Regions from separate parts of the Homo sapiens genome. Here all the other regions are reported to be linked to region 1. The links are microRNA targets in miRTarBase. Many come from high-throughput screens and were not tested one by one. Region 1 holds a microRNA gene; each other region holds the end of a gene's coding sequence.

Region 1 (7,834 bases):
AATAGCACACCTTTTGTTCCAAAATCTGTATGGATGATTCCCCGGGCAAAATATTTGACATTTTTCAGTCCATGGTATAAGGAAAGTGGCTCTTTCTGGAATCTTCTCCTGAATAAAAAATGTAGCCACTTCTGAGATGTAAAACAGAAGATATTTATATTTAATGATCAGCAACTACGCCCAACAAGTTCTCAAAAAAAAAAGAAAAGAAAAGAAAAGAAAAACTCATGAATACAAATATATCTATGAGACATAAGCTGGATGCCATATACAAGAATGGTACACACAACCCTGCCTATGACCCAGACTGTAACACTTACCACTGTTTAATTCTTTAATGTTTACTGACTAAAACAAGATGAGCCCAATCTGATAATTTATACTGATACAAATTAGTATACCAATGGCCACACAGTATTGCTGGGCTCAACACAGACTGGATTCAGCAGCGATCTAGGAAGAACCTTTTTTTGAAAGACTTTTAGAGGCCGGGCGCAGTGGCTCATGCCTGTAATCCCAGCACTTTCGGAGGCTGAGGTGGGTGGATCACTTGAGGTCAGGAGTTCCAGACCAGCCTGGCCAACATGGTGAAACCCCATCTCTACTAAAAATTCAAAAATTAGCTGGGCATAGTGGCACACGCCTGTAATCCCAGCTACTCAGGAGGCTGAGGCAGGAGAATCACTTGAACCCGGGAGGTGGAGGTTGCAGTGAGCTGAGATCAGGCCACCGCACTCCAGCATGGATGAGAGAGAGAGACTCCATCTCACTTTCGGAGTATCAGATAGCAGTAGCTGCCCCTTGGGAGTAATCACAAGCTAATCACACTTGCTTTTTAAACTCTGTTGCATTTTGTTTCTTGTGCTTTCCCTCACCCCTCCCAATCCCTAAAAAGGAGTTGATTTTTCCCAAATGTGATCAGATTTGTAGTTAAGATCACAAGTCAAGTCTTTCAAACACTGAGTCAGAGGAAGAAATAAACATTTCTGTCAGGGGACTGTGGGAAGGCTGTAAAGGCCTACTAAACCCTGTGGAATAAGTATGAAATTTTGGCATAGTCTAAGGAGGTGGGGGTCTTTCCAGGCAAAGAGACAACAGAATGCAGTGCATAAGTACTGGTTGTATATGGATTTGTTTGGACTACCAACCAGACTGTGACTCCTCAGAGGGCTAACACTATGTCTCAGTCATAACTGTACCCCCAGCACAGTGCCTAGCATACAGTAGGGAGTCCCACTGTTTAATGAATTGTAAGTCTGTTATGGGTAAAAATCCAATCGTAAGACTTTCTATCTCCTAGCAGGTACCTGAGAAACATTTTTTCCTGATGGATCAATTGTTTATTTCATTCCTCACATATTCTTGAAAGGAACTAAAAGATAAGGCTTAGGAGAACAAATACTAAATTATCTCCTAGCACCTGAAGAAATGGTAAACAAGAGAACCGGTGTGAGGTTCTTTTGAACCTAACTAAACTATTATTTAATACCAGTTGGTGTTGTCTGTGACTAATGAAGCTGTACTCCAAAACCTGCCAGCCAAGGAGGGGCTGCTGAGAGACTCCCCATTCCCTTGTCCTGTTCTCAACCTGCACTAGAAGCCTACCATTCCCCTATCCTCCACAGCCCCAAACACAGGCCGGGGGCCTAATTACAGCTGCCCATCACTGCTACAGCTGCTTTTTACCCATGAGGGAGACTTCAGTGCAGCATTATGATTTGCTGCCAAATACATAAAAGCATTACCTTTAATAAAATCCCCAAGACATTTATGTGGACCAGGTGAGGGCTAATTCTATCTTTTTTGACTCTGATAGCTCTTTAAGAATTTTAATATATGGAGGGTATTAGATCATGTAGTGTTGATTACATGTCTTTCATTTTATAGACAGGAAAACTGAGATCTACAGTAGTTAAACCCCTTGGCCAAGGTTACACAGTTCGCGGCCGATCTCCTGGGTCCTTAGTAAGGCTCCTTCTACATACCACCCTAGGGAAGAAAGCGCTGCTAGCTGGGACCTGGAACTGTGTAGCAAATGCAAATGGCTAATCCCCAAAGGAGGCAGCAAGCTCAATTCTCCGGTCAGGCTTTCCCCAAAGGCACTGCTTCATCCTCTTGGCTGATGACAACTACGGTGAATTTAATCATTTGCTACTGGCAGTCAATATAAGTGGTTTAGGCAGCATCTGATTTAATAAATCAAATAAAGAACGCAGTAAAACTTGATGTGATCATCAGATCTACTGAATAGGACCCAGAGAAACAACTATGGGCTCCAGCACAAATACCAGAAAAAAGAAAATTCTGTCTTCTCTGGCACCTATCTCTGGCTTCCTGAAATAGTAAAACAGGATTTTTAAATACTTATCTGTCCATATTTGTTTTACAGAGCATTCTTCCTAATTTATCTTGTATTCAATCAGTACCCTTGGAGGGGGTATTAGTTCACCTTCCTCACTGCAAATGCCAGCCATTCATATTTAATAAGCAATAAGAATCAGGATAATATGCTTAGTAAATGAGAACAGTTTAGAAATTGAAAGCAGATGTAAAAGGAACTGACTTAATGGCAAGTTTAAACCCTTTAGAACATGATGAATAAATTCTGACTTTTCATGATAAAACATCCCAGTTCAAAACAGGTTATGTATCACTATGGGACATCAGAAACTGAAGAATTAAATTTCTTTGGGCTAAAAATGACGTGGAAGGGAAAGGTCCCAGGACAAACAGTAAGGTAATGCTTCTGTTTTGATGCTGAGATTTCTTCTGTGCTGCAGATTTTAAAACCTTTCAAATGGCTGTATTTTCTCCCAACTCTTCCTCTGTGCTGCCACATTTCAGACCCAGCAAGGAGATACTTGCAGAGACTGGTCTGGTAACTGAAGATTACCAAGAAACAGAAGGAAAGACTGCTCCAAATTAATTTTTTTTTCTTTTTTTCCCCCTTAGTTCAAGGAAAGAAGCAAACTTATTATTTAAGAGCAATGCAAAATGAAAGCCAAGGCCAAGGACTTACTTTCCCGGATCTGGCATCTGAGTGCACAGCAACCGCAGAGACTGAAAACTCCTCCGAATAGAATGAATGTTTGCCATCCCCATAAACACAACTTCACAGTTTGGGTAATACTCTGGAGAGAGTAACAATAAAGAGAACACAAATACGTTGAACTTAAAGCCCACATGGCCAAATTTAAAAGCAAACTGGCTATAAAACAAACCCACTGCAGCTTCTGATTAACGAAACTGAAATGTTTTGAAATGCTTAACTATTAGCCCAATCCTTTATAATAAGAGGAACACACTGAATTTTAGCTATCTTTTCAAAAAGCGTGAAAAGGGAAGGTTAGATTTGTAAAGAAGATACTGACATAAAATAAAAGCTATTATTTTTTAAAAGAAAGGCCTACTTCGATCTCACTCTGGCTTTACTTCTTGGGCCTTATCTAACTTGTGGCTTTGAAATCTCTTTGAAAAGAACTCCACAGAACAATGCGTTCACACATTCAAATTTCACCTTGGTACAGCTGCTTTCAATTTCCAGCTTAGACCACATCTGAACAAAGAGCCTGGTGCCTCTGCCTGTGCCATAGGCACTGAGGGGGGTCCCTCCTTGGGGAAAGCTAGCATTCCAACAGTAATGGTGTTACAGCTCAGGACAGAGATACCTTACTAGGGTTCTGTATTTACTGCTTCAATTTTCACCCCAGGTTTTCTAAGGAGAGGCCCTTGAGGAGTTTGCTACAAGGCCAGTGGTGAGCATACCCTCTGTCAAAGGCAACAAAAAGCTTTTAGACGGCTGAGAAATTGAGCCCACTAAAGCAGCAGCTTCCAAACATGAACAGGTCTTATTATGGGGAAGATCTGCTTTCCTTATCACCTACAAGTTGGCACAAGGAAGGAAGATTATGTGACTTCACTGCACCTCCTCCTCCATTTCTCCTCAGAAAAGAACATACAGTGTTAAGAATCCAAAGAGAAGCTCTGGCACTCTCACGACAGGATGGATGAGGAATATGGCTTGCCACTTATTTCAAATTGGGAACTAAGTCTCAGTTGGGCAAGGGCTACACTCACAAGGAGAAAGTATGGGGAACAAAGCACCATACACCTCACCTGGGCATTCGCAGCCTCCTCCTTTGGCTCGGTTTGCCACAGCAGCTGCATAGGAGCGTGCATCCAAGATCAAAAGCTTCTGCGGTTGGATGGCTAAACTCTCTGCTCCTGAAGCATTTGACAGAGAAGAATCTAGGGACACAGAGGGAGAGGGCATACTAAATGAGCCTGTCTCTCCCAGAACTGTGCAGAATTAGACCCACAAGCACATCTTATGGCACAAAAAAGGCTCAATAAAATGAAATCCCCTAACCAAAACCCTTGATACATAGGATTTTTCTCTTTTTTTCTATGTGGCCTTCTTATGAAAGATGAGAAGGATTTATTCTCCAAAACTGACTCCCAGAGTACACATGGGGTTCACACAGCCCAGTCTCTTATACTTCATTTCTGTATCTGTTGTCCTTTCATGAAGCCTGGCATTTCCTGCCATGGTCTGCAGATACTGCAAGTCCTCTATTACATAAACACTCCATTTTTGTCACAATGGCAAGAAAGACAACAAACACACTAATATCTTGATTCAGGTTTGAAACAAAGGGTCTTCTGATTCTCTGCCAAGACCCATGACTCCTCAATCAATCCCATCAAGTGAAGCTCTGCACATTCACTTCTATAAAAGTAAATCTATGTCTTGTAAGGAAGAGGCCATTTCAAGAAAAGGTTCTTAGATGCTATAAAAATCATTGCCATGGGTCCAGGGAGCACCTTACCGAACTCCACGTCAGAAAGGTCTCCCCCATTGGGAAAGTCTCGAGAAGTGTTCCTAGTTGACAGCTTGCTGCCACTCGATCGGGAGTCAGAGGCACAAGCTTTGGCTACTGACTGTACCAGATGCTCATCATCTGCATTTCGCCAGCCCCACCAGCTAACCTCTGGCTGTCCACAGCGGGCAATGACAGCTCCATTGCTCTGGTGCCTGTGTGAGGAACAAGAGACAACAACTGTACCCATTCAGATGCTCTCTGTACTCACACAAAATAGATTTTAAGTGCCTTAATGAACAGTCTAATTCTAGGTAAGTGTTGGGTCAGCTTCAAGTCCTCTCAGTATTAAAGAGGGTAGAAATCTTACACAACCAACAAGAACAAACAACAAAACCTGTGTGTCTTTCTCAATTACCATAACATCACGGAGATCCCTGTAAAGTTACCCAAAAAAATGACTAACAGGGGTCAGGCATGGAGGCTCACTCTGCAATCCCAGCACTTTGAGAGGCTGAGGCAGGAGGATCACTTGAGCCCAGGAGTTCAAGACCAGCCTGAGCAACATAGCAAGACCCCATCTTTACAAAAAAGTTTTTACAAATTAGCCAGGCATGGTAGCACATGCCTGTAGTCGCAGCTACTCAGGAGGCTGAGGTGGAAGGATCCCTTGAACCCAGAAGGCTGAAGTTGCAGAAAGCTATGATTGTGCCACTGCACTCCAGCACTCCAGCTTGGGTGACAGAGCAAGACCCCATTTCCAAAAAACAAAAAAGAATTAATGTGTACTCTTAGTGAAAATAAATCAATATTCGTAACTTAAATCTATAGGTACTACACTAATTCTGCTACCCAATAGTGAAATCTGCTACCTTCTTAATGCTGAACCAAGAGCCCGCCTCTGGGAATAAAACATTTACCTGGCCCACAGTGAACTGCTTTACAAAATCTCCTGAGATTTCATGAGTCACAGACTGCTCTTATAATAGGCAGATAGCTCAATGAGCCAGCTACCCTTCCTAGGGCTCTTAAGAAAGAGAAGAAGAGCATCAACCTCAGAAAACCATACTCTGACATATCCTTTTCCAATAAGACAGACCAGAAATCACAGTCTACTTTAAGGTGCTATTAAAACCCAGACTTTTCCTAGTTAGGCAATTTTAACTGATAAAAAGTTAGAAAAATTCTATTACTTGGCAGTAAAGAGGAATAAAGTTCTGATACAGGCTAGGACACTGATGAACCTCAAATATGTTATGACAAGTGAAAGAAGTCAGTCACAAAAGGCAACTTATTGTACGACAATTAACATGAAGTATCCAGAATAGGCGAATCTATAAAGATGGAAGTAGATTTCTGCATGTAGTGACTATTATAAACTCGTAGTTACTTAAGGGAGCTTGCCTAATTCTAAGTTGGGGTTACTTAAAACGAGTATGTTTCTATATAAAACTGAAGCACTCTATGTTTTACTAGCAGGGGCTTCATCCATTGGACATCTTAATTATTCAGGGCTAGGGTGGCTGGGTGCCCTGTGAATGGGTTTTTTGGGACGATGAAAATGTACTGTAATTTGTTTTTACTCCTAAAACTCACAAATAAGTTAAATTTGGCACTAATCAAATTCCACTGAAATCACCAGTTTGCTTGTAGTTTTTAAAGCCTCCCTCCCTGGGAGACAAGTAGCTGTAAGTACTTGTGTATTGCCAACATGCTCAACTGGCTCACGTGCTGAATGGGGCCAAAATAGAAATAAAACCTCAATGATTCTTTATAAAATGTCTCCTAGCAAATAACAGGCAACCACTGAGCTGAATGACTCCAAACCCTGCACAAGAGGCTGGTTGGGCCTTTCCTGAACATCCTCCTCTTCTTCAATGCTTCCCAGCAGTGCCCAAGAGGAGCAGTAGATGGCGCTCTTCAGCCTGGATCTTGGGTTTTAGGGGACACTGCATTATAGTAGCTATTAGATTTCAACTGGACTATTGCAATAAACAATTATGTTTTCTGCAGTCTTCTAAAATGCTTCAGACTACATGAAAGATAATTCAAACACTACAGTTAAAAATCACTAAAGGAATGCATTTCTATCACTAACAGAACCAGGCAAAGTATAAAAATTATGATGTCCAACAGATAAAGCCCTCCCTACTAAAACACAGAATGCTTCAATTTTATATAGGAACAGAATTGTCTTAAGTAACCTCAACTTAGATTTAGGCAAGCTCCCTTAAGTAACTAGGAGTTTAGAATAATCACCACATGCACAAAGGAAAAAGCTGTGAACTGCACTACAGATGGGTGCCCTTTACATCATCTTGCTATGTTAGAGCAATCTCTACCTTCAGTTATAAATCCAATTAAGTGCTCTCTCATCACAGTAGGACAAAGCCCTAATCAAGCGCTGGTTCAGCATGGTGCTGTCAAGTAACTGCTGCTGGCAACCTCAGGAATCATGACCCAATCTACAGACAACTAAATTCAGGAAATGGATGTCAAGAGTTCCAGGCATCCTGCCACCTAGGCTGGCAAAGCAGAGCATGGTGGAGGATCCGATTCTTCCACACGCCCCTTACAAAGCTCCCAAATACTACAGCAACCCAGTCTGCATCTCAGCGATACAAGACACATGTTCTGAGACAGAGCCCAGTTCCAGGAAACCTGCCTGATTTTGCATGGATGACTACACCAAGAACTTTGTGATCTTTTGAAAGACTTTCTCTGAAAAACTGCAAATAAAATTTTTCATTTATATATCCTCTTGTATCTCTAGAAAAAGGGGGGGAAAACCTAGGGTGCATGCCCTCTAGAATTAATTTTAGAAGGTGCATGCCCTCTAGAATAAAATTTAGAAAAAAAGGAAGTTTTTCTTCAACCAGCCCTCTTAAGCTTCTCTTCCCAAAGGGAGAATTCACCTAAAGCCTCTTATTTTGCAAATAAGAGTACCTTCCCCCTTTTGGTCAAAGTCAGCAAGCCCCACAGATGCCAGGGCTGCTGACCTAACACAGTTGTTG
Region 2 (7,761 bases), not on the chromosome of region 1:
CCTCTTTTTATTTATCCCGTTTGGGAATTGTTTAGCTTCTTGAACCTGAGCTTTGCTGTCTTTCCATTTTGGAAAATATTCTGACATGATTTCTTTGAATGTTGCTTCTCTCTCATCATCTCCTTCAGGAACTCTGGCTATATTTATATTGCTCCTTCTCACTCTATCCTTTGTGTCTTCTTTTTTTCCCCCCCGAGATGGAATCTTGCTCTATCACCCAGGCTGGAGTGCAGTGGTGTGATCTCAGCTCACTGCAACCTCCACCTCCCGGGTTCAAGCAATTCTTCTGCCTCAGCCTCCCGAGTAGCTGGGATTACAGGCATCTGCCACCATGCCCAGCTAATTTCTGTATTTTTAGTAGAGACGGGGTTTCACCATTTTGGCCAGGCTGGTCTCGAACTTCTAACCTCGTGATCTGCTCACCTGGGCCTCCCAAAGTGCTGGGATTACAGGCATGAGCCACCATGCCCAACCTGTGTCTTAACTTCTTTTTTGTATTTTCTGTCTCTTTCTACTGCATTCTGGGTGATTTCTTCAAATCTATCTCCCAGGCTACCATTTCTCTCTTCAGATAAATCTATTCTATGAATTAACCTAGGCATTGAGTTTCTGATTTCAATCATGTGTTTTTCATTTATACTTCTGTTTCATTCTTTTAAAACTCCACTGGCAATCCTGATCTCTGCATTGCCACATTCCAGCTCTGAAATCAAGTCTCCGTGTGCCCTTGTCCAAGGCTGTCCCTTCTGGGCCTGTGTCTAGGAGATTTAGGAACTAGGAGATCAGCTTTCACGTTGTGCTCTGGGGATCCCTGGGTTCCCTGGTACTGATGAGAGGGTACTTGATCAGACCTGCTGCCTCTTATATATTGAATATTTCTTTTAAACAAGGGATTTGAAATAATTTTTTTTTGAGACAGTCTCACTCTGTCGCCCAGGCTGGAGTGCAGTGACGCAGTCTCAGCTCACTGCAACCTCTGCCTCTCATGTTCAAGTGATTCTCCCACCTCAGCCTCCCAAGTAGCTAGGACCACAGGCACGAGCCACCACGCCTGGCTAGTCTTTGTACTTTTAGTAAAGACGTGGTTTCGCCATGTTGACCAGGCTGTTCTCGAACTCCTGACCCCAGGTGATCCTCCCAACTCAGCCTCCCAAAGTGCTGGGATTACAGGCATGAGCCACTGCGCCTGGCCTTGAAATAAAATATTTTTAAAACCACTGGGCTAGGGGAGGTCTAAGTTTCCTTCAAGTTCAAATTTGTGATACTGAATTTTCATCTCAGATATGACAATGTTTTATGACAACCTGTTGACTCTGTAGTTTCTGACTTAGACGTGTGAACAAAAGCACCTGACCACCTGGAGAACTGGGTCCTGAGTTCTGTTGCTAGTGAGGAAAATCTGTTTTACTTCCTGAAAAATTTTCCAATCTTTTGAAAACTTGTAGAAAGCACTCAAGAAATGTTCATAGCATTGAGTCAAAGAGATGAATTGACTTGCCCGAGATCACACAGCTCAAAGCTGATGATGCTGGGATCCATGCCTAGGCAGCCCAGCCCAAAGCCAGGCTCCAGGCCACTGTGCCATGGCCTTCCCCATAGAAGCTGATCAGAGGGACACCAGCCCCAGGCCCACGCACTCCTCTCCATCTCCCCTCCCAGGCACAAGGGCACGACATTACTGTATCCAGACAGCCTCGGAGGCTGGGGCTGGGTCCAAGGCAGGGCCGTAGGGCCCCAAGTACCCCACACTCCTAACACCCATCCTCTCCTCTGTACATTCATCCTGGGACCCTGAACAAGTCCCAGGGGCTGCAGGCCTCAGCTTCCTTGTCTGTCCAATGGGAGAAACATTCTGGTGCCCCTCACCTGGGGACAGGTCTGGCAGCAATGAGGTCAGCCAGGGTGGGAGGCCCCAGGTCACTCCTGCCCTCGACCGGCTGGTACCAGTCACAGGCCACCTGGACTCCTTCCCTCTCTAAATGATTACACAGTCGTACAGATAATGAGATCTAACATTTATTAAACACTGATGTTGCACCATTTTCAGTCCTCACTAATACCCGAGTCAGGCACTATTATTGTCCCCATTTTCAGATGAGGAAGCTGAGGCACAGTGAGGTTAAGAGATAGTGTCTCTTAACACAGCCAGTTACAGAGTGCATAGGGGATTTAAACCAAGGCTCACTGACTCCAGAGCCCGTTTAGAGACACAGTGTGAGAGTTGGCATTTCCAGGCCATTCCGGAGACTCTGAGAACCGGCCTGAGGTGGGGCCCTGTAGGTACTGCAGCTCTGGTCCAGTTCTGGCCAACAGGAGAAGGCAGTGACCTCCTGTGGGGCAATTTCTCTGGCTTCCTCATGTGGAAGGCTCAGCTTTGTGAAAACAAGAAATAGATTTGCAAACTGGACAAGTGTGACTTCAGTCCTGATATGGTTTGGCTGTGTCCCCACCCAAAGCTCACCTTGAATTGTAATAATCCCCATGTGTCAAGACCGGGGCCAGGTAGAGATACTCGAATCATGGGGATGGTTCCCCATACTGTTCTGGTGATGGTGAATAAGTCTCATGAGATCTGATGGCTTTATAAATGGGAGTTCCTCTGCAAGGGCTCTATCTCTTGCCTGCCTCCATGTAAGACGTGATTTTGCCCCTCATTCACCTTCCACCATAATGGTGAGGCCTTCCCAGCCATGTGGAACTTTGAGTCCATTAAACCTCTTTCCTTTATAAATTACCCCGTCTTGTATGTCTTTATCAGCAGCATGAGAACAGACTGATACAAGCCCTCTCCAGCAGGAGACCAGAGGCAAGAGGAATTTGCTTCCTGTGGTTGACAGCCTCAAGAATGTCAGACACTATATAAACCTGCAGGGTGCCCTACTTCCAAGTCCCTACAGACATGGGCCTTTTAAAAGTTGCACAGTGGTGAGAATGTCCAGTTGGAAAGCCTCGTTAGCACAGTGCAGCCCGTCCATGGCTGAAGTCCTGGGCTTATCCTGGACCTGCCCTCATCCTGGACCTGCCCTCCCACGTCCTCCCTCCTGGCTAGCGGCAGCTCCAGCCTTCCAGTCAGGCCCACACCTCACAGTCCCGGGCTTGTCTCTGCATCCTCTATCCAGCCCATCACAGGTCCTGCTGCTTTGCCTTCAGAGAGTGTCCAAGAGTTGACCACTTGTCACCACCCCCACCACTGCCCCCATCCAAGCCACCAACATGGTCCTTTTAGAATGCAAGCCAGGTGCAGTGGCTTATGCCTGTAATCCCAGCACTTTGGGAAGCCAAGGTGGGCAGATCACTTGAGGCTAGGAGTCCAAGAGCAGCCTGGCCAACATGGTGAACCCCATCTCTACTAAAAATACAAAAATTAGCTGGGCATGTTGGTAGGCACCTGTTATCCCAGCTATTTGGAAGGCTGAGGCAGGAGAATCGCTTGAACCCAGCTGCAGTGAGCCAAGATTGCACCATTGCACGCCAGCCTGGGCAACAAGAGCGAAACTCTGTCTCAAAACAAAACAAAACAAAACAAAACGCCAGGCGCAGTGGCTCACGCCTGTAATCCCAGCACTTTGGGAGGCCGAGGCAGGTGGATCACAAGGTCAGGAGATCAAGACCATCCTGACCAACATGGAGAAACCCCATCTCTACTAAAAATACAAAATTAGCTGGGCGTGGTGGCGCATGCCTGTAATCCCAGCTACTCAGGAAGCTGAGGCAGGAGAATTGTTTGAACCTGGGAGGCAGAGGTTGTGGTGAGCTGAGATCGCGTCACTGCACTCCAGCCTGGGCGACAGAGGGAGACTCCGTCTCAAAAAAAAAAAGAATATAAGGCAGACCTTGCCCGGCTCTGACCAACACCCTCCAGGGGCTCCCATCTCATTCAGCCAGAACTGGAGTCCTCAGAATGACTTGCTAAGCCTGCACATCTGACCCCAGCCACCTTCTGACCTCATTGTCTTCTTCTCTCCCTCCCCCACCCTCTCTGCTCAGCCACTCTCTGCCTCAGGCCTTGTTAGCTGTCACCAAGAACCTCTCATGCTAAATGGAATGCCCCTGGGTGACTTTTCCCGCACCCTGGCATCCCCTGCCTCTGGAACACGGCCTCACTCACAGTGGGCTCTGGGGCGCTTGTTGTATGTTAGAAGCTCTCCCTGTTAAGGCCGCTGTGTGGAAGGGGCAGCCACATGGTTGCCTCCTCCACCGTTTCTGTCTGCCTCTGATGGCCCTCCGGCTCCCGACTGCCTGCACAGTCGGGGGGTGGCACAGTGCCTGCAAATCTAAGCCACCCTCTCCCACTCCCTGAGCAGCTCCTAGCCAATGACTGGAAAGCCTGGCACCCTTGCTTTCATCGCAGGCTCTGCTTCTGGGGTACACTCTGAGACAGGAGCTTTCCTCTGTCCTCTCCCGCAAAGAGCCGGTTCAACCTGGGGGTCTGGGACGATGAGGGACTGAGGTGTCTAGATACACTCCCCTGTGCGTGGCCCAGGCTGCATCATCTGCCCCCACTGCCTGGGCCAAGCCCCTGCCCTGGCTTTTCATTCCCTTTGGGAATCTGACACGTTCACGACGCAGGTACACAAGCCTTCCCGGGGCCAGGATGCTGTATACACAAGATAAACGGACTTGGGTCTTAGTCCCATTCCCCTCGGGTCACGCTCCTCCTCCACCCAGGGTGGCTACAGTCATGAACCTGACAGGTGTCCTTCTAGTCCATGCTTTTCTATTTTACCGCACATACACCCAGGAACAACATATGGCATTGCTGTGAGGTCTGAAAATTCATCCCAATGCCATTCTGCAATCTGCTTTGTTCACATTTGCGGGGGGCCAACGTTGGTGGAAATAGGTCTGGTTTAACAGCTGTAACTGCTGCACTGTGCTCCATACGATGAATGGACCGTGGCTTACTGGTCCGTACTCCCTATAATGAATGGACCGTGGCTTACTGGTCCATACTCCCTACAATGAATGGACTGTGGCTTCCTGGTCCATACTCCCTACAATGAATAGACTGTGGCTTCCTGGTCCATACTCCCTACAATGAATAGACTGTGGCTTCCTGGTCCATACTCCCTGTAATGAATGGACCGTGGCTTACTGGTCCGTCTCCCGACAGTGAGGCTGTTTCCAGTTTCTCACAACTGCAGCTGCTCAGCAGCCCTCTGCCCGGAGCACAGCCCCTTCCCCACAGCAGCCTTCCTCCCTGACCCAGAGGCCCATGTCCTCTTCTTTCGGGGCTCTTGCCTCTGTCTGTAATCCTCCAGGTGGGAAGACTCCTAGGTTGAGAGCAGGCTCCCAAGGTCACCACTGCAGCCCCAAGCCCGCTCGGCACCAGGCAGGTACTGAGCCTCTTTTGATTGACAGATGGACGCAAGAGAATAATGGGAGTTGTGCACTAGGCCTTGACCCTGTGCCAGGGACAAGCCAGGATGGCCTGGGAAAGCCCTGGCACTTGGTGCCCAGGGGGCAGAAGAGCAAGCTGTGAATAGCTAGACCTGTCCGTGGGGTGGGCCGAGGCCCTGGGGAACTTCTGGACGTGTCAGCCCAAGTCAGCTGTGACCAGACACAGGGGCTACCAGGAAGAGGTCGCCCCTGCCTCCTAACCTAGCATCGTCACTGGCCTGAGGAGCAGGTCCACTGCTAACAAGTTCACCATCACTTAGGGAGCCCTCCTCACGCCAGGCACTTCACACCTGGAGCAGGCACCAACCCTTTCTAGAAGACACTGAAGGCATGCAGCTAGTAAGTGGCAGAGCAGGATTCCAAAGAGTGCCTGGGTCATCTGGTTCAGAGAAACGGATGCCCACGCACCACACCCACCAGTGTCTCTCTCTCCTGTGGCCTCTGCTAGGCCAGAGCCAGGCTCAAGCCCAGCTCAGCCAACGCACATGCCTGTTTCCTCCTGCCATGACAGAATGGGGCAGCACAGCACAGGCTCCACCTGGGAACTGGCAGGAGACATCTTCCCAGGAACAAGGCCAGGCCCCAGCCCAGCCAGGAGATTGAAGGTGGTTCAAAACACAGCCCATCTACAGAATTCCCCAAACTTTAATGCTGTGCTCTGAAAAGGGAGGCTGGAGGTTGTGGTGGGACACAGTGTTGCTGACACCTCTGGCCTCCAGCCCTGCATCCCTAGGCACCATGTGACCAGGCAGTGAGAAGGACGGGGCCTCACTCCCATGCCAGACTGCTCCTCGGGCTGAGCAGGACCTGAAGCTCTCAGGGCTTCCACCAAAGCCCAGCAAACTTGGGGGAGGCCTGAGGGGGCATCAGCAGTCCTTAAAGGCCTGAGCTTGCAACACTCAGGCAGGACTCGGCTGAGGGCCTCTGTGGTGCCACCATGGGGTAGGAGGTAAAGAGAGACCCTGGTTCCAGCCTGGGAACCAGTGGGTGCCCTGAAGGGAGGGGAGGCCTCAGGGAGTTCGGGACAGGAGTGTGCATGGTACTGGGCGGCCCATGGGGGCTCCTGGCCTCTTGGTTCAGGCAATCCCTGAGCTGGGGACACATTCCATCTTAGGTCCAAGAGACGGAGGTCAGGAGCATCCCTAGAACGACCTCCCAGGCACGAGGAAGGCCCGGGGCAGGGCCGGGCGCAGCGTGGCTGGCTTCAGTACCCTCGGGCATCTTGACTCCTGCCCTCTGGGACTGCAAAGGGATCTGCGGGCGCCTCTGCTGAGTCAATCGTCTGGTAGGCACTACGGTCCTGAGAAGACCCAAGGAAACCTAGGTGACAGGGGACATGGTGGGAAAGAAAAATGAAGGGTGAGAACTCGGGATGTTCAGCTGAGTCCAACCCAAGATCCACCCCCGCCACCCTCGGGCTGGGCATCCTGACACCATGCACAGAGACAGAGGCAGCAGCCCCAGGCCCTAAACCTTTAGCGTGTATTATTCATTCAATCCTGCCGTATCCCTGTGCGACGGGTATTTTTATTGTCCCCACTTTACAGATGAGGAGACTGTGGGTCAAAGGGATGAAGTGACTTGCCCGAGATCACACAGCTCAAAGCTGATGATGCTGGGACCCACGCCTAGGCAGCCGAGTCCAAAGCCAGGCTCCTGGCCCCTGTGCCATGGGCTTCCCCAGGCAGCACGTGCTTAGGAACCTGGGCAGAGGGACATCAGCCCCGGGCCCACGCACTCCTCTCCAGCTCCCCTCCCAGGTACAAGGACACCACATTACCATATCCAGATGGCCTCGGAGGCTGGGGCTGGGTCCAAGGCAGGGCCGTAGGGCTCCGAGTACGCCACATGCCTCACTCCCATCCCCTACTCTGTACATTCATCCCGGGACCCTGAACAAGTCCCAAAGGATGTGGGCCTCAGTTTCCTCATCTGTCCAATGGGAGAAACATTCTGGCACCCCTCACCTGGGGGCAGGCCCAGGCAGTGCTGAGGTCAGCCACTGTGGGCAGCCCCAGGCCATTCCCACCCTCAACCAGCTGGTGGCAGTCACAGGCCACGTGGGGCATCTCATCTCAGGAGTGAAAGGCAGAAGGCCACACCCTACCACCTCCCTCCACTCCTCTCAAAGAGAGAGAGAAAGGAAGAGAGAGAGAGGTGTCAGAGAGCAGGCAAATGGCTCGGCCACCAGGAGAAGGAGTACAGGAGTTCAGAGAGGGCGTGGGAGAGGGCAGGTGTAAGGCTGGGTGAGTGGGGAGGGGCCGGTGGGCAGGGAAAGTGCCCCCTGTTCAGGGCTGTCTTCACTGAGGCTCCCACAGCCTACACTGGCACGGGCTCTGCCCTGGCCACCTAGCAGTCTCT
Region 3 (7,834 bases), not on the chromosome of region 1:
TCAACAAGAAGAGCTAACCATCCTAAATATATATGTACACAATACAGGACCACCCAGATTCATAAAGCAAGTTCTTAGATACCTACCAATAGACTTAGACTCTAACACAATAATAGTGGGATACTTTAACACCCCACTGTCAATATTAGATCAATGAGACAGAAAATTAACAAGGATATTCAGGACTTGAACTCAGCTCTGGACCAAGTGGACCTAATAGACATCTACAGAGCTCTCCACCCTAAATCAACAGAATATACATTCTTCTCAGCACATTGCACTTATTCTAAAATTGACCACATAATTGGAAGTAAGACCCTTCTCAGCAAATGCAAAATAACTGAAATCATAACCAATAGTCTCTCAGACTACAGTGCAATCAAATTAGAACTCAGGATTAAGAAACTCACTCAAAACCACACAACTACATGGAAACTGAACAATCTGCTCCTGAATGACTACTGGGCAAATAACGAAATTAAAGCAGAAATAAGTAAGTTATTTGAAATCAATGAGAACAATGACACAACACACCAGAATCTCTGGGACACAGCTAAAGCAGTGTTTAGAGGGAAATTTATAGCACTAAATGCCCACTGGAGAAAACAGGAGAAATCTAAAATCGACACCCTACCATCACAATTAAAAGAACTAGAGAAGCAAGAGCAAACAAAATTCAAAAGCTAGCAGAAGACAAGAAATAACTAAGATCAGAGCAGAACTGAAAGAGATAGAGACATGAAAAACCCTTCAAAAATCAATGAATCCAGGAGCTGTTTTTTTTTTTGAAAAGATTAACAAAATAGATAGACCACTAGCCAGACTACTAAAGAAAAAAGAAGAATCAAATAGACACAATAAAAAATGATGAAGGGGATATCACCACTGATTCCACAGAAATACAAACTACCATCAGAGAATACTGTAAACACCTCCACACAAATAAACTAGAAAATCTAGAAGAAATGGATAAATTCCTGGACACATGCACCCTCCCAAGACTAAACCAGGAAGAAGTCGAATCCCTGAATAGACCAATAACAAGTTCTGAAATTGACACAGTAATTAATAGGCTACCAACCAAAAAAAGCTCAGTACCAGATGGATTCACAGCCAAATTCTACAAGAGCTAAAAAGAGGAGCTGGTACTATTCCTTCTGAAACTATTCCAAACAATAGAAAAAGAGGGACTCCTCCCTAACTCATTTTATGAGGCTAGCATCATCCTAATACCAAAACCTGGCAGAGACACAACAACAAAATAAAATTTCAGGCCAATACCCTGATGAACATCGATGTGAAAGTCCTCAATAAAATACTGGCAAACTGAATCCAGCAGCACATCAAAAAGCTTATCCACCACGATCAAGTTGGCTTCATCCCTGGGATGCAAGTCTGCTTCAACATCCACAAATCAATAAACATAATCCATCACATAAACAGAACCAATGACAAAATCCACATGATTATCACAATAGATTCAGAAAAGGCCTTTGATAAAATTCAGCACACCTTCATGCTAAAAACTCTCAATAAACTAGGTATTGATGGAACATATCTCAAAATAATAAGAGCCATTTATGAGAAACCCACAGCCAATATCATATTGAATAGGCAAAAGCTGGAAGCATTCCCTTTGAAAACCAGCATAAGACAAGGATGTCCTCTCTCATCACCCTATTCAACATAATATTGGAAGTTCTGGCCAGGGCAATCAGGCAAGAGAAAGAAATAAAGCGTATTTAAATAGGAAGAGAGGAAGTCAAATTGTCTCTGTTTGCAGATGACATGATTGTATATTTAGAAAACCCCATCATCTCAGCCCAAAATATCCTTAAGCTGATAAGCAACTTCAACAAAGTCTCAGGATACAAAATCAGTGTGCAAAAATCACAAGCATTCCTATACACCAATAATAGACAAACAGAGAGCCAAATCATGAGTGAACTCCCATTCACAATTGCTATAAACAGAATAAAATACCTAGGAATACAACTTACAAGGGATATGAAGGACCTCATCAAGGACAACTACAAACCACTGCTCACAGAAATAAGAGAGGACACAAACAAATGGAAAAACATCCCATGCTCACGGATAGGAAGAATCAATATCGTGAAAATGGCCATACTGCCCAAAGTAATTTATAGATTCAATGCTATCCCCATCAAGCTATCATTGACTTTCTTCACAGAATTGGAAAAAAATAATTTAAATTTCATATGAAACCAACAAAGAGCGCGTATAGCCAAGACAATCCTAAGCAAAAAGAACAAAGCTGGAGACGTCATGCTACCTGACTTCAAACTGTACTACAAGTCTACAGTAACCAAAACAGCATGGTACTGGTACCAAAACAGATATATAGACCAATGAAACAGAACAGAGGCATCAGAAATAACGCCACACATCTACAACCATCTGATCTTTGACAAACCTGACAAAAACAAGCAATGGGGAAAGGGTTCCTTATTTAATAGCGTTGGGAAAACTGGCTAGCCATATGCAGAAAACTGAAACTGGACGCCTACCTTACACCTTATACAAAAATTAACTCGATGGATTAAAGACTTAAATATAAGATCTAAAACCATAAAAACTGTAGAGGAAAGCCTAGGAAATACCATTTAGGACATAGGCATGGGTGAAGACTTCATGACTAAAACACCAAAAGCAATGGCAATAAAAGCCAAAATGGACAAATGGGATCTAATTAAACTAAAGAGCTTCTGCACAGCAAAAGAAACTACCATCAGAGTAAACAGACAACCTACAGAATGGGAGAAAATTTTTGCAGTCTATCCATCTGACAAAGGGCTAACATCCAGAATCTTCAAGGAACTTAAACAAATTTACAAGAAAAAATCAACCCCATCAAAAAGTGGGTGAAGGATATGAACAGACACTTCTCAAAAGAAGACATTTATGCAGCCAACAAACATGAAAAAAAGCTCATCATCACTGGTCATTAGAGAATTGCAAATCAAAACCACAATGAGATACCATCTCATGCCAGTTAGAATGGTGATCGTTAAGAAGTCAGGGAACAACAGATGCTAGAGAGGATGTGGAGAAATAGGAACACTTTACACTGTTGGTGGGAGTGTAAATTAGTTCAACCATTGTGGAAGACGGTGTGGTGATTCCTCAAGGATCTGGAAGCAGAAATACCATTTGACCCAGCAATCCCGTTACTGGCTATATGCCCAAAGGATTATAAACCATTCTACTATAAAGACACATGCACACGTGTGTTTACTGCAGCACTGTTCACAATAGCAAAGACTTGGAACCAACACAAATGCCCATCAATGATAGACTGGATAAAGAAAATGTGGCACATATACACCATGGAATACTATGCAGCCATAAAAAAGGATGAGTTCATGTCCTTTGCAGGGACATGGATAAAGCTGAAAACCATCATTCTCAGCAAACTAACACAGGAACAGAAAACCAAACACCGCATGTTCTCACTCGTAAGTGGGAATTGAATAACGAGAACACATGGAGACAGGGAGTGGAACATCACACACCAGCGCCTGTCAGAGGTTGGGGGGCTAGGGAAGGGATAGCATTAGGAGAAATACCTAATGTATATGACAGGTTGATGGGTGCAGCAAAACACCATGGCACATATATACCTGTGTAACAAACCTGCACGTTCTGCACATGTATCCCAGAACTTAAACTATATTAAAAAAAAAAAAAGTTAATTATGCCTTCTTATCTTAGACATCCCTTCACTTACTTTCCCGGTTCACTGCCTTCCTTCTTGTCATAATCGTTCTGCTTGAAATGGACGTTGTGAAAAGCCTAATTTCAGCTTAGAAAAATGTCCTCTTCTACCGCCCTTCCCATTCAATGGATTAAGGATAAAAGCAGACAAACAGATTGAACATAGAAACTCTGAAATTATTTACAATTTCAGAATCGGTAATCAAAGCAAGAGCTCCACAGTGTTCTTACCTAGCTGCCTTGCAGATGCCTGGCACTGAGTCTTAGCAACTTCCCTATGAACTCGGGTTCATTTTAAAAACTTCCCGTAGTTTCGATTCAAAGGAATGCCTGACCAATACTGCCACCTACTGATGAGTAGGTGAGAAATCAGGACAATCAGATGGAGAGTCCAAACCAGTTTAATGAAAACGAAGACAGACAATAATGAAAAATTCCTTGAAGTCGGTAAAATAATCTGCCTTTCCCAGAGAGTACTAGTAAGGAATTTACATCGAATCCTACAGCAGCATTAAGCAAAGATTGTGTAAGTGCAAAGAATTACAATGACCTCTGATACAGTCTGGCTCTGTGTCTCCACCCGAATCTTATCTTGAATTGTAATCTGAATTGTAATCCCCATATGTTGGGGGAAGGATCTTGTGGGAAGTGACTGAATCATGGGGGCAGTTCCCCGTGCTGTTCTTGTGATTGTGAGTTCTCACAAGATCTAATGGTTTTGTGAGGGGCTTTTCCCCGCTTCACCCTGTGCTTCTCATCCTTCTCCTTCCTGGCACCATGTGAAGGACATGTTTGCTTACCCTTCTGCCATGACTGTAAGTTTCCTGAGGCCTCCCCAGCCATGTAAGTCAATTAAACCTCTTTATAACTCACCCAGTCTCAGGTATTTCTTCCTAGCAGTGTGAGAACAGATTAATGAAGCCTCTTTCAGAAAAGAGCATCACCAACGTTACCAGGACAACCAGTCCTCCTTTAAGAATTCAAATGTTTTAAACTCAAGGCAAATATATTTATTTTTATTTTGTCTCATACACACACAGAAAAACAAATAAAAATCTAGCCTGAGATTTAAAACTCACTAAGGAAAAAAAATCACAGCAAAAGCAGTAGGTTAACATCAGGATATTTATATTCAAGGCTCTATGGTATCAAGTTTTTTTTCTCTTTAGAGCCAGGCATGGTGGCATGCACCTGTGGTCCTAGCTACTCACGAGGCTGAGGCAGGAGGTTTGCTTGAGCCCCAGTGCTTGAGGCTGCAGTTAGCCGCGAATGCACTGCTGTACTCCAATCTGGAAAACAGAGCAAGACCCTGTCTCTAAAAAATTTGAGATTTTTTAAAGTCCATATTTTTTTGTTATTTAAACGTGATATTATTCAACATTGATGAACTTGGGTCGTGAGTTCTAAAAGGGATTCAAAATAAAATGGCATTTTCACTTTTTTAAAATTAAGATACTTTTTCATGATCAAAAATATGTTGTGTCTCCCTCCTGACCCTCCTTTTCAGGTAGGTAGCAAACGTTGCGAAATTTAGTTGGCATATGCTTCAGACAACCTTTTACTTAAATCATTATCCTCACTGCTATCTTTTTTTTTGAAGTTGTATACTCCTAAAATGTTTTAAGCACTTAATTTTTCTTTTATATTATTAATTGTTTTCAACCCACTAATAAGTACCATTTTGCTAATTGGGAAATTAATACATATTGTCAAAGAAACAGACTAAACTGTATTTTGAAAATCCTGAAGAATAAAAATTTGTAAAAGGAAAAAAACTAAAGACGAAAACATATTTACATCTCTGACATCTTCCTACTTTAAAAATTACAAAGAAAATAGAAAATAGAGGTGACTTTTAATAACAAAAAAGTCCATTTCTCAATATTAATAAAAAAAAAGCAAAAATACTCATAAACACATAGGATTAAAAGTAATGATTCCAAGAGAAGATAATTTAGAAAAAGGCATTTAATTACAAAATTTTCTTTTAAATAAAAAAGCAATGGCACGAATCACCACAAAATCATTTAAGTGATCATATCCACAGGCTGTTCTTGTAATTATATGCTAAAAATTTATGACTGTTCTCATTAACAGCATTCCCCCCCTTCATTAGAGACATCAAGAGCTTCTGAGAATGTGTAGTTTTTCCTAAAGTACTACTAAAAGTATCATGAACACCGTTTGTGCAGCATTCATTTACATCACCTTTTATTTACTATATTCTAAACTCATAAAATATTTAACATTTCTCTACTTCATTTCTTATTTACAGTACAGAGGCTCATCTCTTGTCACAATATGGTTTGTGCATTAAAATCCCTGGGAATAGTACTTTCAAGAACATTTTAATAAATTGACTCCGATTATTTAAAATAAGAACACAAACAAAAGCTTTTTCACCCAGAAGAATAATTCTTCCAGTAGACTTATTCAGGACTTAAAAAAAAAAATCCCTCTTTAAGTAAAATACATTCTTCAACCATTACTGGATTATACTATCATGCATATTTATAATGCTAATAATGACAACACGTAAAGCCAGCTATGACTTTTAAAATTCCATTTAGAAGAGTACAGTAGACAGAAAGTGCTTTGGCTTTCACTCTCTTGTTATCCATAATCCAATTATTATTTCACATGGGTATATTTTATTTATTCTTAGTATATAAGTATTTAATGGTTCAGTAATAACTGGCAGCTTCTGACAGTCCTATTTTCTTGGTCGCTGATACGGTTCTGTGAACATAAGTCAGATGAACTGAAAAAAAATGCAAATCACTTCCTGTGATACAGCAGGAAAAGGTGGAATGTTATTATTTGAGCAAATGATTCAAAGAGATGAATACTAACATTCTGTCGTGACAGGAATACTGTGAAATTAGGTATGTTTTAATGTGCTGTCTTCACAACTTGCCATACCTGGTATTTGTTATCTTTTTGGTCAAAAAGCAAACCTAACTGGGAAAGGGTAGATGTGAGGAGGTAATAGAGGTGAGAGAGCATATATTACAGTATATATGATTTTAGGAGAAAAGAATGGGAAGAGAAGACATTTCCACATATTAAAAAAAAAAACTATGTCACATCTGGACACATTTCACAGAGCATATGAAAACTGCCCACAAACTAATTAAGCCTCTTTACTCTCACTCCAGAAATTTTTTTTCTAATAATAACATTAATAATAATTAATATAATTCTGGCAGCAGCACAAATCTATGACTTTTTAAGGCTTAAGAGAGTCATTTTTAAATACTTGGGTACAACTGAATAATATGAGTCCTGCCATTTCTTTTATTTACACTCTTGACTCAGCAAGAATTATGACAGAAGTCCACATGGTTATCTGCAGCTTGTTAAGTCTTCTACAATGGCTTTGACTTTATAACCCACTCAGCATTTGGGTTAAGCTGATATAAATCCTTCATGTAAGTGTCATCATCAAGGCAGCGTTCCCCTGTTAAAATAGATGTTGTGTCAGTTTAATACAGCAGGTAGATTGGTATGCAATTTTAAACTTAAGCTTAATTATTTAACTCTTAAGTCTTGGACTTCAAAATACTTATTCTACTTTGGGAGGCCGAGGTGGGCAGATTGGTTGAGATCAGGAGTTTGAGGCCAGCCTGGGCAACATAATGAAACCCCATCTCTACAAAAAATACAAAAATTAGCTAGGCATGGTGGCTTGCACCTGTAGTCCCAGCTACTCAGGGGGCTGAGGTGGGAGGATGGCTTGAGCTCAGGAGGTGGAGGTTGCAGTGAGCTGAGATTGCGCCACTGCACTTCAGCCTGGGTGACAGAGGCAGACACTGTCTCCAAAACAAAACAAATAATAATAATAAAAAAAAAACTTCTCATTCTTTCCTGTTTCTCAAAATATTGTAAGAATTGGCCAACAATTGGAAAAATAAATTTGGTAGTCTTTCTCCAAATGAATAGGTTTCAAATTAATTTAGGAAGCTGAAAATACTTTGTATGATAGGCTTTTAAATAGTTCCTTAAAAGCTTAATCATCTTATTAGGAGGGGCAATGGTTTTGAATCCACCTAAGAAACTACACTTAATTCCCAAGATCTAAAAGGAAAATAAGAAA
Region 4 (7,834 bases), not on the chromosome of region 1:
ATTGGGAGTTCCTGACTTGGAGGCATTGGGCAAGCCTTTGCTCTTCAGCCTCCATATATAGAGGGTAGTATTTTCATTTGTAGGCTTCGCAGGATAGGATGCTTGATTGTACTTGACTTTGGAGATTTCTTGCTCTTTACTGTCCTCTTCAGATAGTAGAAGGGGAGGTTTAAGATGTGTCCTTTAAGAGTATTCCCAAAACAAGTATTGAGGATAAAGGTCAAATTCATGCTAAGGAGAAATGTTTTTGCAGTAGCTATGACTTTCACCTCTTTTTCCCCTTCCCTCTTTGTAAAAGACAATTTGTAGTACATTTTGTCTCTCTAAGGGAGACATGACTACCCCAAATTTTTAAACAGACCAGGAAGAATCTATTGTATATTTGAGTGGGAACCTGAGAATGCTGTGGCATATAGACAAAATTAATTAAAATAACTGATAAATCAGATGTAGCTTTAAATGGGATTTTCAAAATTAAAATGTAGGAGAATTATGTTAATAAGCTCTGCTTTTAACTCTATCAAGTATAGGAATGTGTTCCTTTGTGCAATTTAAAACCACCATCACCTATGCCCTCTAGTGCTTATGGGATGAGTTTGACAATAGAATTGTGTTCTCTGTTTCCTGCTTCTGCCCTGGTTACTGCTGATATTCCTGGTGTGAGAGTTCTCTTAGTCTCTCTGATCCCAGCTTCCCTGGCATTGGGAAAAGGGTGGCTTTGCCTATTCCTCCATGTGGTCCTGCTATGGGGCTGTGGTGCTGGAGAAACAATAAGTGCATCTGGGCAAACACGGCAGACTACTGGCAGTCAGCTCCTGGAAGCCAGGGCAGTTTATGCCCTAGCACTGCCCAGGTGTAGAATCCTGTCCTGAGGATGTTTATCTGTAGCAAGCCAAGGACATTATAGTTGACCCTTGAGCAACATGGGTATGAATTGTTAAGGTCTACTTATATGTGGATTTCCTCCCACCTGTGATACTTATATGTGGATTTCCTCCCACCTGTGATAACCCTGAGACAGTAAGACTGACTCCTTTTCTTTCTCTTCCTTCTCGGCCTACTCAATGTGAAGACAACAAGAAGGATGAAGGCCTTTATGGTGATCCAGTTCCACTTAATGATAAATGTATTTTCTCTTATGATTTTCTTTCTTTCTTTTTTTTTTTTTCTTTTTTTTTAAGATGGAGTCTCACTCTGTCACCCAGACTGGAGTGCAGTGGCATGATCTCAGCTCACTGCAACCTCCACCTCCGGGTTCAAGCAATCCTCCTGCCTCAGCCTCCCGAGTAGCTGGGATTACAGGCGCATACCAGGTTGCCTGGCTAATTTTTGTGTTTTTAGTAGAGACAGGGTTTCGCCTTATTGGCCAGACTGGTCTCAAACTCTTGACCGCAGGTGATCCACCCACCTCAGCCTCCCAAAGTACTGGGATTACTGGCGTGAGCCACCATGCCCCACCATGATTTTCTTAATAACATTTTCTTTTCTCCAGCTTATTTTTGTAAGAATACCATATATCATACATATAACATATAAAATATGTATTATTTTGACTGACGGTATTAAATATGTGTTATCTAATATGGACTGACCGTTTATGTTATCAGTAATGCTTCTAGTCAGCAGTAGCTATTAATAAAAATTTTTGGGAAGTCAAAAGTTATGCAGATTTTCGACTGTGTGGAGCAGGGGGTTGGCACCCCTAACCCCAGTGTTGTTCAAGGGTCAATTGTAGTTTAAAATCTTCCCTTCCTTTTCCCATCTGTACTCACTGAGTCGTCATCCAGGGTGGAGGAGGTCATGTAGGGATCTTCATGGTCCTAGTGTGTAAGCACCTGTGGGACCTCCCTCCTAGGAGTGGCATGGAAGGTGCTGCTGGGATGGACATCAACCAACCCCCAAGGTAGAGGCCAAGTCGCTGTTGGCTAGATACAGGCAATTGGTACCTTTCCGAAGCTCTCTGTGGTGTTAGTTCACTGTAATGGAGGATTCAGAGAGGGGCAGCCAACTCCATGCCCTGTGAGCCTGGGACAGTTGTTTGTCCACTTGCTCAGGCTCTTGACAGAGCAGCTTCTTACTGCATGACAGCTTTTTAGGCACTCTCCCTTCTCACCACTTTACCTTTACTTTCTTCTTATCCTAGTTTTACCTCTCTCTGAAGACAGGTAATGATTAGCTGCCCCTTTTTTCAGTGGACACATTTGACATTGTAGAGGAACATGGAATAAAACAACTGTTCATTTAAGATTTCTATGTCTGTCACAAATGGCTTTTCAAGTTTCACATGTCAAAATTGATAGGTTATCAAGGAAAAGTAAAAAGAAGGCATTCACTTTTTACAGTATACACAATTTTAATAACAAAACTTGCCTGTACACTGCTCTTTATGTTACCCTCCCCCCTCCCAAAACACCCTGCATAATAGTATTTTCTTCCCACCCTCAACCCATCTGCCCACCTCCCACCCAAAAAGAAAAATGGCTCTTGAAGGTGATTGAACACAATGTATTTGGACTGTACTTTGAGTTTCCAGTCTCAGTGTTGATAGGAAGGTTCACCAAACATTCCATATATCAGACTTAAAAAAAAAAAAAAAAACCGCTAAGGACAAAAATGTTAGTTGAAAGAGTTGCAGAGGTTTCCAAATGTTTGCAATAGCAGAATGAAAGCTTAAACAGTAATTTTCTATTTGTTTTTGGCCTTATTCAAGTACTATGAGTTTGCCCCAGGTTAGATAGAGAAATATTTAATTATCTATAGATGGCCTTACTGTCTCTCTCTCTTTTTTTTTTTTTTTCCTGGCTCAAGGGCTTTAGTCAATAAGATATGAAAAGTATGCCCCCAAACAGACTTTTCAGATAGGTCTGTCGCTGTATTCCTGTATTAGGAAAACGATCATGTAAGTCAGCTGTTAAAAATATTCTTTAACAAATTTTATATTGATATCCACACTTCAGAAAAAGAACAGGACATTTATAGCTTTTTCCCCTGATAGCTGTGTGTAGGAAGTGTGCCTTAAGAAAATGAAATGCCTGTTTTGAATTTTAGAATTCAAACCTAGTGCTACATAGGGCTCATTTTTATTGGAAAGATGGAGTCTAGCTCTTGGTGACTAGCATTAGAATAAGCAGATGGATTTTAATAATTAGTGGCGTTGGGAAGTTCAGTCAATTCCATTTATTGAATTGATACAGAAATTAACTTAGGCACATTAAGAAATTACATGTGTTAGTACAGATTTTTGGCTTAAAAAATTAGTATCTTTGCTTTTTGATGCTGGCAGTGGGTATTCTCAGAGTTGTGTGTGGATTTACAAGTTTATCAGCCCACTCTTTTCAGAAAGGTGATTGAAATCCCTGTCATGCTACAGAAATGAATATAAACGATTTCAAACTAGTTCTTGGTTTCTAGATGGGTATGGTATCATAGTCTTCTTTAGCTTTCCTTTTTCCAGAGAGATTAATTATTTTTCTGGTTCTTAATGGTCATTTTCCTCTAATCTTAAAAATAGAAAAAAAATGGAGTGGGTAGTGGTGGTGAAGAGGATAAAACCCCATCAAAAAACAAAAGCTCTGACACTGTGTAACCAAGATCCGCAGCGTTGCTGTGATGCTGTTCCGTTCTAGCCAGTTGGTAAAGAAAGCACAGATGACTAACAGTCTAATCTTCAAACCTGTGCTGATTCTGAAACACAAATGGACAAAAATGAAAGAAAATCTTGCCTTCTACAGGCAATTAAAAAGGGAGGTTTTTGCTTTTAAATGAGAAAGGAAAATACCTTTTTGGTACTACTGTCATTCACTTTTCTTAAAGGACATTACCCAGAAAAATGGAAGGCAAAAAATTTTGATTTTTTTCAACTGGAAAGTATGCCTCGCTAGCCTTGGCTATGCTGTTCCTCTGAATTAGTAAATGGCTGGCTTTTCCAATTTGCTTTTGTCCGTACACTAAGGATTTTGCCAGTTATGGTCCTTTAAGGATTAAGGTGGAGATTCCCAGCCAAAGAAGGGGATTTCTTACCCATCCCACAGTTTAAATCTTAATTTTGTTTGTGGTTTGAAATGATGGAAAATACTCCTCTGCTGTCCTTCAGGGCTGATGGAATCTTGTGTGCTCAGGACACAGTTGTGTTGTGACCAAGCTGTCTGTCACCTGACAAATGGCAATGGTCATCCTGATAAATGGGTTGGTAAATTTTAGCTCGTGGTGCTCTTATTTGTAATAGGGGCTTCTAATTCAGCCTGTCTGTGGGGAAGTAGGGCGCTGTGCTCTATGCTGTTAAATCAGCTTCTGTCTCTGCCCAGACAAGCCCAGGGTCTGGTTTAACAAGAGACAAAATACTCACCACTCGAGATCAACTGAATTGAACTGGGCTGAGACTTTGACAAACTAATCTGCCCACCTTAAAAAAGAGCACATTTTTACTGTAATTTGTGATCTTGTCTGCTTTTTACCGAGAGATGTTAGGTGAAGGGTACTAAGGTACCCATCTCTTAGTATTAAAGAAGAAAAATTGTGATTAAATCTTACTGGCTAAACTATAGCCTTAACATGTTTTCAGTTTGATCCTGGGAAGAAAAAATATGCCCTGAATGAAGGATATCATGTTGATGTTGATGTTGGGGAAAAGATAACTTGAAAAATGGTAGTGGCTTTCTCTAAGGTTTTATGTCTTTTTTCTACATACAGTAAATGGCAGTTGTAAAAAATGCTCATTTTCTAAAATCAAGTTAGTGCTATAATTTTACAGTTTTTTCAATATGTGGAACAATGTTTATGGAAAAGTTCTGTGTGAATGAGTAGCTTGCATCTAAATTCCAAATATTTAATAGGTTTTCTTTAGAAATCATAATACAAGAAACTGAATACCTGTGGTTCTTTTCTGCATGAAAAATGTGGCATCCTTATCATTTGTTAACTATGGCATGTTTATATTTACATTGGAGGATCTACCCCTCTTCCCTTTTCAGCAGCAGGTCCTTTCCCTGTTTGGTGCAGATTGTGTATAATCATTGTTGGCTGCCTTGTAACTCCAGCTAACCTGAGAGTCAGATTTCAAAATCTGCCTTTCCTTTTAATCCCTCACCTCTGTGCTGCCTTCAAGTTACCACTGTGTGGCTGCATAGGCATGTCGAGTTGTTCTGCCATGAGATTCATCTCAGTGGTGCTGTTTTCTTCACCTACACTGAACTACACTTACAGCGTGAATGCGTATCTTTATTGAAAGATCGAAATGTATTATATAATAGTTGGAAAGTGTTTTTTTTCATGGTTCCTTTGTAATACAATAAGAATCAGTGTTAAGCCTGTTGCTAGCCAATTATTTTTAACTTGGCTCTTTGAGGTTTGAAGATCAGGAAAAAGCAGAAGAAAGAGGTTTAAACCCCTTTGTCAAGGCATCTTTGATCATGATAGTTGAGAGAGAGAGCGCGAGAGTGTGTGTGTGTGTGTGTGTGTGTGTGTGTGTGTGTGTGTGCGCTTTTAAATTGGAGGGAGCATGTCAGGATTGTTAAATTGACTCAGTTTGTCTTGTTTATCTCCAAAATATCTTCTAAATCTTTTTTCACATATTAATGTAAACATAGGATTTAGTACATTAATTAGTACAATGACAGTTTAATGCTAGTTTAAAACAGTTGTCTAAATGCCACAAAAATCATGTCCATTATAAGTCAAACGAGAAATGTATAAGAAGTTGGTGTAATTATTTAGGATTGGTTTCATTGTAATGAGACCTTTTCACAGTCACTTGGATTCATTGTGTAAATATATTAAAGAGTCACTCAGCTTATTAGAATTACATTAAAGGGTTCTGAATTCATGATATGGACTTTGATAATATCTACTAACCCAGGCAGAAACTCTGGAAGGAGAATGTTTAATATTTACCAGTCTTCAGCATACATGAAATTCTACTTCCCACCCTGGCAAGAAATTGAAGATTTGAGTAAATACCAAATTATCATACAAGAGAACTTTACTAAGTCTCCTTTTAAGCAGCAAGATAGTTGTGGTACATGGGATGGAGAGCAGTGATCAAACAGGTATTGATCTATATCTGTTTCTGCCCAATAGCTTCTTTCTAAATTGTTTTCAGTAGAAAAAAATAGTATATGGAGACCTTAGTGTAAAGGTTTACACACGATTGTATATAATTACATACATTTCTTATTTTGAAGTAAGCATTTTAGACTTTCCAACAGGAGTGCAAATTAATGTGAGCATTGATTCATTTAACACTTAAAATATGGTTTCATTTAAAAAATTAAAAATACTTCAACACTTCAAAAACTAAGTCTCCACTTAGTTTGGAAAATTAGGCTTAATGTCACCATTGGTAAAAATTAGATATGTATTTAGCCTCTACTATGTAAAATAGGTTACTTATCTGATGTGATTTTTGATGATGGGTAGATATTATACTTCACATTCTTTGTATGGCAGCTGCTGACACTTGCACTGTCCATAACCATTAATGATGATGAAGGGTCCTTCATGGGTGGGTTCATATTCATTATACGGTCCTTGGTCTGACATGTTTGACATATGGAGTCGTGTTTGGGATCGGAGCTGCCTGTGGTTCTGAACCATTGAGCACTGCCTAATTCTTCTTAAAGTGGGAGGGCAGCACTTCCTGGAGATGAACACTATAAAAATAATAAAAAAGAAAGAAAACAATAAAGCCATTGTTCCCGTAATTACCCGCTGAGTGAAGATGGCATTGTCTGGTTCAGGAAAGTGTTCCTCGGTAGTAACTGCTATGCCTGCAGTAGTTGGGATTTCTTTGTCTCCCACATGGTAACTTGATGAGCTTATTCTTTTTGTATATTCAGTGGTTGGATCTCTATAAGTTGTAGCCATGACAGTGACAGTGGTTGACAAATTCCAGCAGAGCTGAAATCCATGGACTGCATCTAGAATATCCTCTCCTTGGGTGTGGTCAGGACTGTGGCATAGGATGGAGTGTTCCCACCGACCTTGGAAACTGCCCAGCCAGGAGGCCAGAGCACATATTCGGGCGCTGCATTCCCACAGATTGCCAGAGAGACCAACGGTTGTGAGGGATCTCAGGGAGTTTAAGATCTTGGAATCAAGGCTGTTTAACTTGTTGTTATCCATGAGGAGTATTTTAAGATTGGGCATCGTTTCAAACACTGTCAAGTCGATGGCTTTGATTTCATTTCCAGTCAGGTCTAGCTTTTCTAAAGTGCCCCAGGTCCACTCCATCCCACATGTCAAGTTGCTGATTTTGTTCCATTGTAAGAAGAGCGTGTGCAGACTGCTTAGCCGTAGGAAATGAGCAAAATTAATCTTCGTCAGCTGGTTGTGCTCTAGGTGAAGCTCTCTCAGTTTAATTAATCCTGCAAATCCATTGCGAGCCAAACTTCGCAAACGATTTGTGCTCAAATCCAGAAACTCCAGACTACGACAGTCCCAGAACAGGCGTACTGGGATAGTCCGCAGGGAGTTGGAACGTAAATGCAAGGTCTGCAGCTTCCGAAGGCCATAGAAGAGCTCTGGGTGCAGAGATGACAGCTGATTAAAAGACAGGTCCAAATTTTGCAGGTTAATCAGTTGGGTAAAAGTTGTGTTTGGCAAGTAAAATATTTTGTTGGAACTTAAGATTAATTCCTTAAGTTTATATAGTCCTTGAAAAGCATCTTCTTTTACTGTTGAAATTTGATTGTGATCTAAGTGGAGCCAAGTAAGTTGACTGAAGCTGGCAAATTGATCTCTTTCGAGCTCTGTGATGTGATTGTGCCTCAGGGACAGGCCCAGAGAGCCCTTGTCTGTGGCGTTTGGCACTGAGTGGAAGCCCTGAGAGTCGCAGTAG

The links. The annotated mature microRNA hsa-miR-6818-3p reads UUGUCUCUUGUUCCUCACACAG and lies in region 1 at 5,036-5,057, opposite strand. An mRNA with a match to its seed (bases 2 to 7 or 8) in the 3' UTR can be bound and repressed. Matches are read on the target gene's strand: a 7mer-m8 pairs with bases 2 to 8, a 7mer-A1 pairs with bases 2 to 7 and ends in A, and an 8mer does both.
Region 2: the mRNA of AGTRAP is a reported target of hsa-miR-6818-3p. The part of its 3' UTR that is shown has no 7-base or 8-base seed match.
Region 3: miRTarBase lists ARHGAP18 as a target of hsa-miR-6818-3p. Seed matches in the 3' UTR shown: 7mer-m8 at 5,049-5,055 and 7mer-A1 at 4,760-4,766.
Region 4: miRTarBase lists LRRTM2 as a target of hsa-miR-6818-3p. Seed matches in the 3' UTR shown: 7mer-m8 at 4,292-4,298 and 7mer-m8 at 2,771-2,777.

What each region holds. Positions count from the first base shown.
Region 1 is chr22:30,004,315-30,012,148 of GRCh38, reverse strand. It overlaps MIR6818 (microRNA 6818), which reads right to left and starts at 5,100; the gene lies at 5,036-5,100. It overlaps MTMR3 (myotubularin related protein 3), which reads right to left. Exons shown (of 20, transcript NM_021090.4): 10 at 4,830-5,035; 11 at 4,117-4,248; 12 at 3,020-3,131. HORMAD2-AS1 (HORMAD2 and MTMR3 antisense RNA 1) reads left to right here. Exons shown (of 5, transcript NR_110541.2): 5 at 2,953-3,403.
Region 2 is chr1:11,749,036-11,756,796 of GRCh38, reverse strand. It overlaps AGTRAP (angiotensin II receptor associated protein), which reads right to left. Exons shown (of 5, transcript NM_020350.5): 5 at 6,028-6,720. The coding sequence ends at 6,605. Among named protein-coding and RNA genes, the nearest start is that of C1orf167, 9.3 kb to the left of the region's middle. RefSeq lists an enhancer at 7,259-7,761.
Region 3 is chr6:129,571,407-129,579,240 of GRCh38, forward strand. ARHGAP18 (Rho GTPase activating protein 18) reads right to left here. Exons shown (of 15, transcript NM_033515.3): 15 at 4,726-7,198. The coding sequence ends at 7,107. Among named protein-coding and RNA genes, the nearest start is that of ARHGAP18, 130 kb to the right of the region's middle.
Region 4 is chr5:138,866,593-138,874,426 of GRCh38, forward strand. LRRTM2 (leucine rich repeat transmembrane neuronal 2) reads right to left here. Exons shown (of 2, transcript NM_015564.3): 2 at 2,329-7,834. The coding sequence ends at 6,418. The region is part of intron 7 of CTNNA1 (catenin alpha 1); the gene reads left to right. Among named protein-coding and RNA genes, the nearest start is that of LRRTM2, 4.8 kb to the right of the region's middle.